Linked DNA regions of Homo sapiens: region 1 is linked to region 2. The links come from fine-mapping of genetic effects on gene expression. A gene starts in region 2. The other region holds a variant in brackets. All regions are shown on one strand. Distances are from middle to middle.

The links. PIP is the estimated chance that this variant, and not a neighbour inherited with it, causes the effect.
Region 1: its variant is the best candidate, but not a certain one, in a credible set for the expression of TGFBR3 in lymphoblastoid cells (TwinsUK, PIP 0.61).

What each region holds. Positions count from the first base shown.
Region 1 is chr1:91,724,634-91,733,394 of GRCh38, forward strand. TGFBR3 (transforming growth factor beta receptor 3) reads right to left here. Exons shown (of 17, transcript NM_003243.5): 6 at 5,172-5,340; 7 at 3,026-3,173. Among named protein-coding and RNA genes, the nearest start is that of TGFBR3, 160 kb to the right of the region's middle. RefSeq lists an enhancer at 7,899-8,193. The variant G/A (reference allele first, on the strand shown) is at 5,411.
Region 2 is chr1:91,880,871-91,889,631 of GRCh38, forward strand. It overlaps TGFBR3 (transforming growth factor beta receptor 3), which reads right to left and starts at 5,281. Exons shown (of 17, transcript NM_003243.5): 1 at 5,008-5,281. RefSeq lists enhancers at 4,089-4,852, 4,853-5,615 and silencers at 4,758-4,967, 4,978-5,057, 5,408-5,547.

The DNA of each region.
Region 1 (8,761 bases), 160 kb before region 2:
AGCAAGGCTTGGGACAATGGCAGACAAGTTGGTTCCCAGCTTTGAGCAAATTCTCACACTGTACTTCTGGAAGTCCCTAGGCTTTTTCCAGCTTTAGTGGAGCTACGCCAAATGCAGGTGTACAAGGAGGTCTCCAAAAACCACCACCATCTTTCCCAGCCATATCTTCATGAAAGATAAGGAGTTAAGTCTAAGTGCCTCCACACTCCCCCATATTTACATCTGGACTGATGGTATAGGGGAGGGAGGACTAAGGAAGGGAATGGCCAGAGAGCGTAGTGCATATGCCCACTGAGATTTTTAAAAATGTATTCTCTAAGAACAAGCTGCCCATCATCAACCCTGAAGTCCTGAGGCCACATGAAATAATATAAGAGGAAACCTCTAACAGGTTTCCTCCATCTATTTTTTTATGTTTTAGAGGTTCTTCCTACCATAAAAGTGATTATGCATGGTCCACACAGGACCTGAGAAAAGAGCCAGAGCTGGACAAGGCAATGTAGACACCTCCAATGTTCCCATTCTTGCCCACTGCCTGGCTCTTTGCACCTCTTTTGACCATTTTGCCATCTGGAGGACACATTCTGCCCATGCCCCACCCCCGACACACACATGCATAAGACATCCATATTTAATGGTGCTCTTCTTTAAATTACTCCATCAGACTCCTTACAATTCCCTTAGTAGACATCTTTCTTTCTTTTCACCTTGTATAGAGAAGTGCCCTAATTGTTCCTATAGACACTCTGAAAGAGTTATTTATGGAAGGAAGATGAACCCCCTTTTTATGGCAGGCACTCTGCTAGGCATATATTATCTTATTTCTCTTCCAAAATATAAGGAGATAGGCATTACCATTCCTGTTAGAGAAGGAGAACCTAAGACTCACAGAAGCAACACATGTAGCTGAGAACTTACATGCGCAGGCCCTGTGTCCAGTGCTTTAGGTGAAATATCCTATAGGCCCTTAACAAGTATTTGGCAAATAAATGAACAAACAAATGAACTCAGCTAATGAACCACAAACTCAAGGTGAGTACTATCATCATACCCATTTCACAGGTGACCAAACAGACTCCGTGTTCATCAGTCAGACTGCACAACATCTACTAGGAGTAGTAATTGGAAATGGGATTTAAATCTAGCCCTGTCTGGCACAAAGTCAAGATTCTTTCAATTTCACTATGCTGTCTCTAAAGGAAATACTAGAAACAAGGTTTCTATAAACCATTGCCCCCTTTCTAAATAGTAATTTAAACTTTTGTGGGAGCAGGTACCTTTCCCTCACAGCACAGTCAGAATTCACATCTGAAACAGGGAATTAGAAAATCACAAAGCATAAACTGGTTGGGAGAATAAAAAAGAACATCATGAAACATTACCTAATTGTTTAGTAATGTTGTCATGCATTGTCCAAAATTGGCCTGGAACAAGCGTACAGCCAAGGAGAGGAACATAAACAGATCTTGCACTGGGATGAGCAATCTCATTTCTAGCCTTTCTGATTCATATGAGAGATGGGGACATTCAAAGTGAACTCCAGGACTGCCATGGACCAGGCACACATACTCAGGGAAAGAGCCATCGAAGGGTCAAGGCTGAAAGAATATTTACACAAGAACTCCAGCAGGGAATTAAAATGTACCGTATGTTTTTGCCTTTCAAAGCATGATTCCCTTTCCTGTTTTTGTTATTCTGAAATTAAAAACATTTGGCCGGTGTGCCAGGCAGCAAAAGCAGCAGACAGCCTAGGTCACCAACACCCCTCATGCCATGCCAGAGAAGGCAATCAAAACATCTCTGACTTCAGATCATGGCTAGGCTTTGGGCTTGACAACAAATTAATGTATCACCATTACATATGATGGCTCACTGGGATCCTAGCAAAGTTATAAAAAAAAAAAAAACCCACGGGAACCAGAAACGATTACTTTAAAATTAAAATATGTGTGCTAGTGGTTTTGCCTGCTGCCTCTGGTGAGTGCTTTTACATGACGTTGCCAAGGGAACTGTTGGCTTTGCTCACTGTGGTATCACATGGAAGGTGCCATGAATGAATGAATAATACCAAAACCAAGGGCATCCCTCTCCCAAAATACTGAAAACATAAAACCCACTTCAGCTTACTCAGTGCAGGAACTAAAAGAGAGATTGGCCAAAAAAAAAAAAAAAAAAAAAAAAAATTTGAGCCCATAGAAGAGATACTAAAGAGATAATTATCTTCTTAAAAAATAGGGAGGAGGATTTTTCTTTAACTTTCAATATAATTCAGTCAAATAGTTATTGCCTAAGCATATTTGAGATAAGATTTACTTTACCAAGTTTCAACATTCAACTTTTGAGGAAACCAGCTGCTGTTTGCCCATCATGCCAATGGGCTAAGCCTTGTGCGTACATCTCTATTAAATAGAGGGCCTTGGGAACAAGCTGGAGTAGACTTGTCCAGCATCATTTCACTGACTTCGCACTTACTGTGATTCTTCTATCAGTGTTTCACACTTAGGAGTTGGAAGCAAGCAAAAAGACATGCCAATATTTCGTATTTAACTCAAAAAGAAAAGTCAATGATGTGAGCTGGGGTCAGCCTAATAGTCCATACTTTCTCTAAGTACCTAACTCCAAAATAAAAGCTGATATTCGGTACTATGACACTGAGGTCCTTGTGGGATGCTCAATATGAAGGCTTAATTGTGTTCATTACTTTACACTTACTATTAGTGGAAAGCATACTAATGTATTTCAGGAATTTCACAAATGAGGGAGCTGGGGTTCAGAGAGGTTAGGGGACTTGCCAAAGGTCACAGTGGGATTACCTGGACTCAGACCTGGGTCCGTCTTAATCCAAGGCCATGTTTGAACAACCGCACCTATTTTATAGGAGCATGCTATTTTGCAAAGTGAAAAATAATTGACAGAGCTTAGAGAGTCCAAAGAGGCAGGAACTTTAAAAATAACACTTATAAAGTACAGCTTAAATTGTTGTCATTTATCTAAACAAAACAAAAGACATGCTCCACCAACTTACAATAATTTTCAGGCTTCCCTTAACATCAAAAGATTTGATCACCCAGTTGACAGACTTTTTGCACTTCAAGATCAGGATGAGATTTTTGACCACTTCAAGATCCTCTTGAGAAGGTCTTATATCAATTGTTATATCCACCTGGAAAGCACTGTGAATGGAAGACAAAGGCAAAGTTAAGACCTACATGCCAGAAAGTTGCAACTATCTCCCCTCTTCCAAGTCTTCATGTTTCTAGTGTCTGGCCAGTTGATTAAAAAGCTGGAGTTGATCCCAGGCCAATGACATGTGCAAAACAGATTGTTACTGCACACATAACAAAATTGTTTTACATAACAATAGAAACATATGCTTGCTGATAATTAGTCACTAAAGTTTTTCTCTTCTTTGATGGAAAAGAGGTGGTTACTTAATGCAGCCACTGTTTGAAGTGGACTTGAACGAACCAGAAGAGTTTACTTTTGAAGCAGTATTGTTGCTTTTTCAACCTTCAACACCTTCGATGTACAGGATTCCCATTTGGCTAATATGCTCAAATTCCTTCAAAACTGAAGTAGGTGGCAGTTTGGTGAGTTGGGGGCGGGGTGTTGGGATAAGGGAAGCATGGTGGTAAAAAAAAAAATTAGGAAACTTCAGAGTAAAATAAGAGACAAAAGGCTAAAGAATTTCTTGATTTATATAAGGTTTGCTTAAGTCATTAACAATTGCTACAGAATCGTATCTGCATTTACTTTCCCAAACTTCTGGATATAAGGTTATTAAAATAAAGAAAACAGATGGTCAACCAAGTGATTACTGGAAAATTGATGAACACAACCCAAACTTCTAAGAATTCGTAAAAAAGAGAATTTTTTACTAAACAATAACATCCCTGTCATTCTGAATTTAAGGGAACAGTCTTTCTTTCCATCTCAGCTTTACACACTTGTAAAGCATAAAATGCATGGTATACTCCAATGAAGCCTCAGGCCTGACGTCGAAGCACATTCACCAGACTGCTCCTATTCCCATTCCCTTTTCACTTTCTACAAAATTCTTCAAGTGGCCAGAGTGGAATCTTATCAAAACGATCTGTAGCTTACACGCTTTGAAAGTCAAACCCCGATTAGCATTTTCACCTCGAAATCCCTCTACAATATACATTTAAATTTTCAAGTCACTAGTCCAGATGCAAAGGAAGGAGGGTGAAATGCAGGCTCATGTGGGAAAAGAACCTACTTTTTCTCCTTTTTCTTTAATTCCCTAATTATTCTTGATAGGGAGGGTCGAATTTCCAATCCAGGGGTAGGAAGCTGAGAGGGAGAACAAGCGCACAAGGGAGAGGCAAGTTCTATCGAATGGCTTTTTGGTATGTCACCATGAAGGGCCACTCCAGCATACACACACACACACACACACACACACACACACACACACACACACCAAGCACACAAGGGAGAGGCAAGCGCTATCGAATGGCTCTTTCGTATGTCACCATGGAGGGCCACTCCAGCATACACACACACACACACACACACACACACACACACACACACACACACCAAGCACACAAGGGAGAGGCAAGTTCTATCGAATGGCTCTTTGGTATGGCACCATGAAGAGCCACTCCACCACACACGTGCATGCGCATACACACACACACACACACACACACACACAGATTTAACGCAAACAGCTCTGAGTGCCTAAGCGCTCTAAGGACACCACAAACAGAGCTTTATTAAAAACAGAAGGTTACTAAGATGATAATTATATTAATAGGGCATATTTTGTAATTTTCCTATCAGGGATAACCTTAGTCAGAGGTGATAAAGATGAAGGAAGAGTGACTGTGTCCTGTAATTAACACCCAGAAGTTTGGAACAGGCTTCAGGAATTCATCTGAAATATCTGGGATCTAGGGACAGATGCAGAATATAAAATATACCACTGGTGCCTTTACTCTGTTCTTCAAAGCTTCTGTGAAACACATCTGATGAAGCACACCTGAAGCATCAATGGCTACCTTCCCTCCTGCGTGAAGCATCAATGGCTCCCTTCCCTCCTGCGTAGGGGAGGGTGTAGGACGGGCTACACCTCTCCCTGCCTCAAGTCAAGGAAGATCTTTACTTTCATCTCTTGTCACACTCACACACTTAGACTCACTTACCTGTAGGGGTTAGAGTTGGGGGTGATTAGCTCGATGATGTGTACTTCCTCATTCTGGGGCTGGCTGGACATCACACACCCTTCTGCTGCTTTGGGTTGAAGGTACTCAGCAAGGTAATTGAGTGAGAGAAAATTCTTCCCTATGTTGCACTTTGGAGGGAACACTTGATCTGAAAGAGGCACAGGACAATCTGTCAAACCACTGAGGTACTCGGTAACCAGATTCAAAGGAAGGAGGGT[G/A]ACAGTGAAACTGAGCAAATGGCAGACACAGGGAACCACGAGCTCAAAGGATGGTTCTTCGTCTGTGAAGTCCGCAACCACTGCCCTGAAATGCATCCTGTTATGGTCACCAGTGACCGCCTATTGACTAGCCCCCAACTAGGGGCCTCTTTTGGCTAAATCTTCTCCTTGCATGTTCTCTGTGATACTTCCTGTCCTCGTCTGTTTCCTCTGACCTATCTTTCACATCTCTTCCACTGGTTCCTCCTCTGCTCAGAATCTGTATAGACCCCAACCCAGAGAATCTGATTCAGAACACCCAGGCGGGGCCTAGGGAGCTTTCTTTTTTGAAAAGCTCGTAGTAGATTCCAATATAAACCAAGGCTAAGAACTTCTCAGCTCCTTCCTCAATCCCCTTTCTATCTCATTCTTTTTCTAGGTGATCTCAATCACTCCCATGGTTTCAACCTGTACCTAGATCATGACTCCTTTTCTGAGCAGTTGACTTATACTGTCATCTGTCTACCAAGCATCTCCTATCTAAAAATCCAATACTTATGTATTTCATGGTCAGCGTATTTAACATTCAATCCATTCTATCCCCAAATGCACTCCTCCTTGGATATTTGTTATTTCAACTATCAGGAGAAGCAACCACCTAATTAATCCTCCGACACCCCATGTAGAATTAATCTTTCCCTCATATGTATTCCTCACAGCACTTTATACTCTGAAGATGAAAGGTAGGAATTTGGGGGAAATAAAGAAGGCAGACTTTCACTCTTTCTCACAATCTGAACACAGACAACTCAAGTTTATATGGCACTTTACAGTTTACAAAGTGCTTTCGCAAACATTATCTCACTGTGCTGAGAGTTGCTCACCACCTCCACCCGGGAAAGTGATGCAAGTACCAGAATCTGAAGACACTCCCACAACGGCACATGCCATTTACACAGCACGGCGGCTGATGGGATTTCCATCCACGGGCTTAAATATTTCAACAGAACTTGAAAGAAACTGCTGGCAGTGTGACAGCTGGGACCAGTGTCAAGGAAGTTCTAGGTGTAGCATGCTTTTTTCAGAAGGGATAATTAATCAGAGGCCTGGCACTACTATAAAACAGACTTCTGCCTTTTCCATTTTGAGGACAGGATGCCAGGGTTCAAGTCCACATGGAAGTCTCACTTTGGAGTAAGGAATCCAACCAGGGGGTCCCAAGACTGGGTTGATACTGTCCCTCCCCCTCCCCACTTGTGCAACCTCCCTTGTGCTGAGGTCCGCAGCACACACTGGGGCATCATGGCTCTGGCCACCACAGCACCCCCAGCACCACCCCAGAACAAAGGGGACCAAAGCCTCTGTTTGTCGGCTCGTTGCGAGAGAGCATTGGGTTTGCACTCTGCAGTCTCCTCTAATTCCCCTCCCCCTCAGAGAGAAAAGCTCAAGGCTCCACTGACTCAGGCTGCTAGAGCAGCCTCCCTCCACATCTGCTGAGGGTTTTGCCAGATGAGCAAATGAGGTATGCACACCGTGCAGCTGCAGCCCTGCGGATGCCTCCCCCACATCACAGGATGGAAAATGATATTGGAACGGCAAGGTTGAAATTTAATTAAGAAAGAGCGTCTATGGGCCAGGGACAGGACAGTCTGGAACTCAAGAGACTAGGGCCCTCCTGGGATTGTGGCCGGCATATCCAGTTCATAGGTGTGCCTGGCTTGTATCTGGCACATAGTGGGCATATGGTATAGGTTTCCTGAATTAACAAACAATGATGTGAGATTTGAGACAAATAACAAAATATTCACTCATGTGAAGCCACTAGGAAAGGTCTAATTGTTCAAAAGTTGATGTTATTAAGGGCTCTAGTCCCAGAAGCCATTGTCACTAAGTTGAATAAGCTGACCACTTTTGTTGTGTGTGGTTTCTCCCCCGCTCCCCAATGACTTTCCGAATGCCTGGCATCAAAACTTATACCGAGTGCCAAGTAGAAAGGAAACCACAAAGGGGAATTCCCGGGTAGAAACCTGGCAAGTTTGGGGGCAGGGGGAGTCACATGCTTATTTGTATTTTAGGGAAAGATTGACAAATGACTTTGAGACACAGAAGGATATACTCTGAGAGCAGGAATGAACCTGGGGGGTAATGCAAACACCTCATTTTCCTGCTGTGGAAACTGAGGCTCTGGTGGTAAGTCAATGTTGCTTGAAGCCTCGCAGCAAGACCAGCTGGGATAAGAGCAAAACTCTTAAATTCTTTCATTCTGGGTATATAGATGAGAGCAGTTCCCAAACGTCAGCAAGCATCAGATCTCCTAAAGGGCTGATTGAAACACTGACTGCTGGGTCCCACCCCCAGAGTTCCTGATTCAGTTGGTCTGGGTTGGGCCTGAGAACTGGCATTTCCATCAAGTCCCCAAGTGATGCGGATGCTGCTGGGGCAAAAACCACACTCTGAGAACTGCTCGGGTTAGAGCAACCAGGCCTCATGGCCTGCGATCGCTGGGTACAAGAAAGGTAGAGCCAGGTCGGATTCTGGGAAGTGGGGGATGAAGCTTGCTCAGTGCAGTCTGAGCCGTGGTGATAAACATATCACTTTATGGTCCACTGACCTCACCAAGGAACCTCCTTTCCCTACTGCTCCTCTCTCCACGGCATGGCCCGGTGACTCATACTCAACTGGTGGCTGGAGTCAAGTTTCAGGGGTTCCGAAGGTGTTACCAAGGAGTTAACAGTTTTTACTGCACCAGACACAAGGTCCTTTAAGTTGGCTTCCCCTACCCAGTGTGCACAGGCTGAACCAGTTAAGTGACAACCCGTGGCTCTCAGGGTAAGTGACTACTGTGCTTAGAAAGAAGCTCATGCACTGCCGAGAGAACACAGTCCAACATTCTAAATGTTATTATAACAAATTTTCTTATTCTAACAAATTCCAAGGGGTAATCAACATTCTTTCATGCTACTAGAATTCTGCTTCAGAAACGCGGCCCGCTGGCCAGGGCTTAGAGTCTTTATTAAAAGAAATTTTTCATTTTGTCTCAATGGGATTTGACCTCTGTTATTAGCTACCTATCATGAGAGTACAGAAACAAACTTAGACTTTTTGAGCCCAGCCCTCCTCTAAGTCCCCTTCTCTCTGCCTCAACTAAACAAGGATGTTCATCCAGGTGGACCACTTCCCTTTTTGAGTTATGCTTATTTGGCTAGGACTTAAAGTACAGCTCAGGCAACAAGCGTTAAACTCAAGAGTCAGGAAGCCTGGGTTTGTGTTCTGGCTTTGTCACTTGTTAGTAACTTGGATGTGAGCAGGTTCACTTAGCCCTCCACTAAGCCCTCTGTAAAACGGTGGAAATGACATCTTCCTCCTGGGGTT
Region 2 (8,761 bases):
ATACAATATATAGTTATAGATTATATATATGTGAGATTTTACATATATTTACATATTTTATATGAATAAGTATATAAATAAAAATAAAAAATAAATCTGACAATTACAATTTTTATCCAACAGCAATGAAAGCACCACAAAAAGATGTTTCAAAATGAACTATCAAGAAGGGAGGTAATTCAAAATGACCACAGAGCAGAATCATCCAGGCAAAATATTACAGCAAAGTTATTACTTACACAGTCACAGTCTAAACTCTAACTGTTCTGTCTGTTAAGCTTAAAATGTAAAGTCAGGACCTTTCACAGATTTTTGAAGCCAGGAAATTGGTCTTCACTTATATACTAAAGAAGTCAGCAGTGATCACCTTCTTAAAACTCAAAGGACAGTTGAGTTCCCTGGGCTCTTAGGCTCAGATTCTGCCCTCAGAAAAACAAGCACTCACCTGACTTTTACAAGTCACAACCAAGTTTGCATGCAAGAGAGAAAAATTAATTCTTTTGAGTCTTAAAAACAATGGAACAACACTTTCCTTCAAGCCAACGAAAGGCTTTCTGTAAGAAAGCCCTAAGCAACCTGAAGGCATTTTGGCCCCCAGTCATCAGAGCACTGAATAAGGACAATTAATTTGCCAAGCTCCAAGACCAGAAACCATAGCCTAGTAGGGAGTAGGAGGTTATAAGTGTTTGTTGAATTACTCGAGTAAACTAGAGCAAAGCATAGAAGACTAAATGAGATCCTAAATAAATGCCACTCTGTAGTATAAGCGCAATGCTAAGATTTAAAAAGAAGGGACTCAACTAATTTTGAAAGTTATTTTAAAATAGGATCCATGGGACCCTAACGTAGTAAATGAAATAAAGGTAAATCAATACTACATAATATGGGGCCGGGCACAGTCGCTCACGCCTATAATCCCAGCACTTTGGGAGGCCGAGGCGGGTGGATCATGAGGTCAGGAGATCAAGACCATCGGGGCTAACACAGTGAAGCCCCGTCTCTACGAAAAATATAAAAAATTAGTCGGGCGTGGTGGCATGCACCTGTGGTCCCCGCTACTCGGGAGGCTGAGGCAGGAGAATCTCTTGAACCTGGGAGGCGGAGGTTGCAGTGAGCCAAGATCACTCCACTGCACTCCAGCCTGGACGACAGAGCGAAACTTTGTCTCAAAAATAAATAAATAAATAAATAATAAAAAAATACTACATAATACGCAAGAAACAAGAAAGGAAACTGGCCTACAAAACTACAGACAAAAATTGAAAACCTTTTTTTTTTTTTTTTTTGAGACAGAACCTCGCTGTCTGCCAGGCTGGCGTGCAGTGGCACGATCTCAGCTCACTGAAACCTCCACCTCCTGGGCTCAAGGGATCCTCCCACCTCAGCCTCTGGAGTAGCTGTGATTACAGGTGTGCACCACCACGCTCAGCAAATTGTTGTATTTTCTGTAGAGATCAGGTTTCGCCATGTTGGCCAGGCTGGTCTCGAACTCCTGACCTCAAGTGATCCACCTGCCTCGGCCTCCCAACATGCTGGGATTACAGGCGTGAGCCACCACACCCAGCCAAAAACTTTTTTTAAAAGTCAAGTTTGGCCAGGCACCGTGGCTCACGCCTGTAATCCCAGCACTTTGGGAGGCTGAGGTAGGCGGATCACAAGGTCAGGAGATCGAGACCTTCCTGGCTAACACGGTGAAACCCCGTCTCTACTAAAAATACAAAAAAATTAGCCGGGCATGGTGGCGAGTGCCTGTAGTTACAGCTGCTGGGGAGGCTGAGGCAGGAGAATGGCGTGAACCTGGGAGGTGGAGCTTGCAGTGAGCTGAGATTGCACCACTGCACTCCCGCCCGGGCGACAGAGCGAGAGACTCCATCTCAAAAAATAAATAAATAAATAGATAAATGTCAAGTGTGATTTTTTCAAGCATATTCTTATTGTTTATGTTTACAAGTATGAGTATTCATAGACACATCACACTTATACTAGTATCAAATATGATACATCTGAACTACTACTATACTTGAATATTAACGTAAGCCTCTGAGGAATTCACAGTAATAGAACTGCTGTTATTTAGGATTACTGATCCCCTATTGTCTTGCACTTAGAAGATGTTAATGAAAGATGATGACAGGATTGTGAACACACCAACCTCCCTGAGAACAAATTCATTATATTCAGTTTTCTACAAAACACAAATGAGGATCATTACAAAAGGATTCACAACAAATTCCTCTGGATTTCCATTTCTCCCAGGTAAGTTGAAATATTATTCAAACCACACAAAATTAGTTTACATACAAACTTCACTTTTTAAAGAGATGGGGGTCTCACTATGTTACCCAGGCTGGTCTCGAACTCCTTGGCCAAGTGATCCTCCTACCTCAGCCTCCCAAAGTGTTGGAATTACAGGTGTGAGCCACTGTGCCTGGCCTACACACCACTTAAGGAAACAAATTGAAAAAAAACTATATGTGTGTTTATCTATCTGTCCAGCCACCATGGAGTTCTTGACATATATTCAACATACAGGCCCTGTCCTCAAGGTCATTCTTAATCAGTTCAAATTAAATCTAGTCCTCCATTATAAACTCCAAAAGCAACTTAGTTATTTTGCTAGATATTTTGCCCTCCCCTTTCAAACTATATGTTTAATACTCTAAAAACGGGTTTATGCGCCTTATAGATATCAACAGTGTGTTATGCTCCCCCTATTGACTAATATTCAAAATAACAATGAACTCCCCACGGGTTGCCTTTGAAGTGCTGGGATTCAAAACTATGTTGGTGATTTTTATATTTAAAAACATGAGCTGAATCAACAGTTGTTAGGCAAAGCTGCCGTGTAACGGTCAGATTCCATCAAAACAGGAAAAATTAAAGTTGACAAATGTCAAACTGAAGGGCCAAAAAAAAAAAACGCTCAAGCCTTGAAACACTAAACAATGCAGAAATAAAGCCAAAAGCAAAGAACAGCAAGAAATAGAGCAACATCCTTTAACTGACACAATGGCATGAAATCAATTTCATGTTAATAGCCCTTAAGGGGGTAAGAATTATTTCCCTGCCTCCTGTGCCAACCCCAAGCTGTTTCCTAAGGAAGCCAAGTAATGGTGATCAACAATGTCTGGAGAATTAATAAAAGAAATTAAGAATAAAGATCCATGTTGGCCAGGCGTGGTGGCTCACACCTGTAATCCCAGCACTTTGGGAGGCCGAGGCAGGTGGATCACGAGGTCAAGAAATCGAGACCATCCTGGCCAACATGGTGAAACGCCGTCTCTACTAAAAATACAAAAGTTAGCTGGGCGTGGTAGCGCGCGCCTGTAGTCCCAGCTACTCTGGAGGCTGAGTCAGGAGAAACTCTTGAACCCGGGAGGTGGAGGTTGCAGTGAGCCGAGATCGCACCACTGCACTGCAGCCTGGGGACAGAGCGAGACTCTGTCACCAAAAAAAAAAAAAAATTTCCATGTTAATTAATACAAGTCAGAGTTCTATTTATAATTATTTGGGGCCAGTTTCAGAGGAACTTTAATTGGGCACCCTCATAAGTATGTAAAATCGCCTAAATTCATCACAGATACCTTATGTGTGTTTCAAGAGATATGCGTTCAGCTCAAATAGAAAGCTGAAAGATGGGAGAAGATGCATGGACTATGCACACAAATCTATGTACACACAAATCGGCCTGCACTTGCCGCTCTCCGCTGAGGAAGGAAGGTAGCTTTGGAGTCAGAACTAACAGAAAGTTATGTATGATCTTGGACAAGTAACTTAACCTCTAGTGTCTTATCTGTAAAATAGGGTTATTAATAGTGCTTTTCCCATAGAGATGCTGTGAGGATTAAGTGCACACAGTATGGGCTTAGAAAACGTTAGCTGTTATTATTATCCAAAAGAAACAACTGAGTTCACACTGAAGTAACTGTTTGCACTCTGCATTCAGGAAGAAGAAACGGTCTTGACGTGTGTTTTTACTACCTGTGGAGACTTCTCCCAAACCGCTCACTTCTTCGGAAGGACATAAAACTCAGAATACGCCTGGTTCCCCAGCACAGCCTGTCACTCCTACTATCCTCTGCCCTCGCCGCTCCTATCCTGCCACCGCAGGGCTAGCGGCAAGCAGCGCTAACCTCCGTGCGGTGCTTACTCGGTGCCAAGCACTGTTGTAGCACCTCACACACATTAAATCATTAGATGCTCACAGCAACTTTACGGGGCAAGTACTACTATCCTCACTTCACAGCTAGGGAAATGGAACGGTTTTCTTCTTCCAGCTTTTCGTGAGGACACCAAATCCACTAAGTTCTACTTTGCCAAGGTAATTCATGCTTGACACGTCGGCTCCTGACACTATGCGATTCTGCAAAGCGGGGCAAATGCCCTAATAAGATCAAGTCTGCAAGCAGATTCTTCTAGCGACAGTCCAAGATTTCCAAGTTTGTCCTAACCAAATGAATACAAGAAGAGAGCCTTCAAAATAAACCGGGGCGGGGGGGGGCCGAGCTGCAGCTTGCGGCTCAGCCCGCAAGGCACCCTGAGGGCGCGGCCAGCGGGGAACGCAAACCGCGTCCGTGCACGAGTCCGGGAGCCACAGCCTGGGCCACGGCAATTGACTGCGAACCCACAACAAACCATTCCCACCGAAGCTGTCACGCGCCCGGAGGGAAGTGGCCGCCGCGCCCCGCAGGGGTCAGAAGGACCCGCGGAGAGGAAGAGTGAGGGCGGGCGTGGAGAATTCCTCCCCAGCACTGCGCATCGCCGGGGGCACTGCCTGCCCCGTGCGGCCGCTGCCCACGCACCGCTGGCCACCGGTGCCTGCTCCCCGGAGGGTAAACACCGCCCCACCAGCGCCTCCCTCCCAAGGCCGGAGGTCCTGGCGGCTGGAGCGACCCTGGCCGGTAAGTAGGCACTGGCAGCCCGCGCCGCGCCGACGGGCACCCGCGCAGCCTGCAGAGCCCACAGCCCGGGCGGGCTGCAGCGCCGCGGGGCTGGGCCGGCACGTACCTCGGAGGCGGTGTGTCCAGCGGAGATCCACCCGCAGCAAGTTGGAGGAAAGCGGCGGCAAGTTTCCCCGCCCAGCGCTCGGCGGCGGCGAGCTCCGGCAGCTGCTGCGCCGCGGCAAAACTACGCCATCCGGACCCGCTGGGGACTCTCACCTCCTGCAGGGAGCTCCGGGAATCGCGCAGGGAAAGTGGCCGGGGCGCGAGAGCCGCCGACTGCCCTCCTTCACTCGCTGGGAAGAGGAAAGTGCCGCTCGGCGTCCCCGAAACCCTCGATTACCCCCATCAGGCCGACCCGGCGCACTCGCCCTCCCTCGCACACACGCGGGCGGGGACGGGCAGGACGCCACAGCAATCAGCGCGCGGGGGGAAGGGCGCTCCTCCGCCGGCCCCACCGGGGGCTCTCGGCCGCCCAGAAACTCCTCCTCCCGCCTCCCGCCTCCCGCCTCCTCTCTCCTCCCCCTTTGCCTCCGCGGCTGATGGATGAGCCCCGAATGCTGCTCGAGCCTGTGCTTCCCTTCGGGACGAGGAGGCCGAGAGAGAAGGGGCTAGGGGCGCGGCCGGGCTCAGCGTGCCCGGGTTGGGGCGGCCCCTGTCCTGGGGGAAGCGCGAGGGAGACGTGGGCACGAGCTGCGGGGACTCGCTCCCTCAAACGAGGTCCTTTGAACTTTCCAGGGCTCCCTGGAAGAGTTGGATTTTCATTTGGTTCCTTGGTCTTTATATAAAAGTTCTGAAACCTCAGATAATCTGATCACAGCCTCTTGCCCTCTCCCCAGCAGAGCTCCCCCATGCACACATTCATTCTGTCCCTGTGCTTTTTCCCAACCTCCGGTCCCGCTTGTTGTCACGCTCTGATGGTGGGCGCCGGCGGAGTCTTGCCTCTTCCCCTCCAGCAGCTGAGACTGCATTACCCAGCCGTTCCCCCTGCTAGCTAAATAAATTAATACAAATAATGGAGCTAGGTCAGCATTACCGGCGTTACCCGGAGGTGGGCGCGATATGAACGACAGTCTCGGCGGGGCAACGTCCTAAGTACCTGTGCCTGTGCGACGTCCTAAGTACCTGTGCCTGTGAAGTACACGCTGCAGAAGTTGAACTGCTGGCACCAGAACACCACTCTGATACTCTTGCTTACACCCAGTTTTTCTTATTAAAAAGTATACTTAAGTAACAGGACATTGTTTTACAAACAGGCAGGTGAAATGACCGTGGACTGACAGGTTTCAAAGACCAGACTTCCAGTCCTGACTACTGTGCGACCTTCCACAAATGGCTAACGGCTAATACCCGTCAAGGCTCAGTTCAAATGAAGGGCTTGGCCTAGAAGGCTTCTTCCAGTTCTAAAGGGCTATGGACCTATGCCTTTTTTTTTTTTTTTTTTTTTTTTTTTGAGATGGAGTCTCGCCCTGTCGCCCAGGCTGGAGTGCAGTGGCACAATCTCAATCTCAGCTCGCTACAACCTCCGCTTCTCAGGCTCAAGCGATTCTCCCACCTCAGCCTCCTGAGTAGCTGGGATTACTGACAAATGCCACCACGCCCAGCTAACTTTTTGTATTTTTTGTAGAGGGGGTTGGCAGGGCGGGGGTCTCACTTAGTTGCCCAGGCTGGTCTCAAACTCCTGAGCTCAAGAGATTCGCCTGCCTTGGCCTCCCAAAGTGCTGGGATTAGAGGCGTTAGCCGCTGCACCTGGCTCAATCCTAGGCTTTTAATATGTTGGAGAGTAGAATGAGGAGGCTTCTTATGACATGTTATTTGGAAAGTTATTGAGAGAACAGGAAATATTTCTCGTCCTCTTCCTCTTGTACCTATAGGCAGAGAATCCACCCAATTGCAGAATTGGAGATTCATTCACAAAGGTCAAATGTCATCAGTCACCTGAATTACTGCAAAAATCTCCTCACTGAACCATTTTTTTCCTTACCAATATTCATTGAGCACTGACTATGGGAGAGCCCTGAGTCAGGCATTGGGAATACAAGTAGGCATAATATTCTGAAGGAATAAACAGTCCAGATGGAGCTAGCCTCTGCTTTTATAAAGTCTAAGTTTAAGGCCTTAAGATTTCTCCTAGACTCAAATTAAACAGTATTTGATATGGTTTGGCTGTGTCCCCACCCAAATCTCATCTCGAATTGTAAGTCCCACAATCCCCATGTGTCCTAGGAGGAACCCAATGGGAGGTAATTGAATCTTGGGGATGAGTTTTTCCTGTGCTGTTCTCATGATAGTGAATAAGTCTCACGAGATCTGATGGCTTTAAAAACAGGAGTCTCCGTGTACCAGCTCTCTCTGCCTGCTGCCATCCACGTGATATGTGACTTGCTCCTCCTTACCTTCTGCCATGATTGTGAGGTCTCCCCAGCCATGTGGAACTGTAAGTCCAATAAACCTTTCCTTTGTAAATTGCCCAGTCTCGGGTATGTCTTTATCAGCAGCATGAAAACAGACTAATACAGTATTTATGCCTTGTTAACAAGTTTTAGTTTCAAGTACAGATGTGAACACTTGAACTAGGTGTGAATATTTAATCCCACATTTAAATGCATCGGCCAGGTGAGGTGGCTCATGCCTATAATCTCAGCAATTTGGGAAGCCGAGGTGGGTGGATCACTTGAGGTCAGGAGTTCTAGACCAGCCTGACCAACATGGTGAAACCCCATCTCAACTAAAATACAAAAATTAGCCAGGCATGGTGGCGGGCACCTGTAATCCCAGCTACTTGGGAGGCTGAGGCAAGAGAATCGTTTGAACCCAGGAGGCAGAGGTTGCAGTGAGCTGAGATGGTGCCATTGCACTCTAGCCTGGACAAGAGCAACACTCTGTCTCAAAAAAATAAAATTAAATTAAATGTATCAATCATGTTAAGGCCTTCTAAATAAAATGGCCTGGTAGATAATTTAGGAGTGTCTTGTCTTTAAAGAGTGATGAAGTGACTGGTCCCCGTAGAGCCAGATTCACAACAGTAACCATCAACATCTGAGCCAGCGTGGGTACTGAATTCTTTTTTGTTTGTTTGTTTTTGTTTTGAGACAGAGTCTCGCTCTGCTGCCGAGGCTGGAGTGCAGTGGCGCAATCTCAGCTCACTGCAACCTCTGCCTCCTGGGCTCAAGCAATTCTCCTGCCTCAGCCTCCTGAGTAGCTGGGATTGACAAGCACGCACCACCATGCCTGGCTAATTTTTGTATTTTTAGTAGAGACGGGGTTTCATACCATGTTGGCCAGGCTGCTCTCGAACTCCTGACCTCAAGTGATCCACCCGCCTTGGCCTCCCAAACTGCTGAGATTACAGGCATGAGCCACTGCGCCTGGCCATGGGTACTAAATTCTATACATATAAACACATTTACTTCTCACAGCCCTCTAAGAATATGTATAAATGAGGCCGATATACATGCCTTTATACAAACTGAGATCTTGTCCACGATTCAATCTCACATCCACCGACCTCAAAACCTGTCCACGATTCAATCTCACATCCACCGACCTCAAAACCTAAGTCCTTAACCACCAGGTTCTTCTACCTGTCATCAGAAGCTTTATAGACTGGCAAAATAAAAGGGCTCTTTTTTTTAATTCTGAGCTATTTAGTTTCAGTAGATGATATGGAAAAACACAAGAAATTACATCAGTATTTACAAAATTAACAATGTCTACAGAGATGTTTTCTCTTTAAATCTTTACAATATGATATTAAAAGCAGAAATCCAGATACCTCAAGCATAGACGAAAGGTTTAAAATAAACTTGAATTTTTGGTTC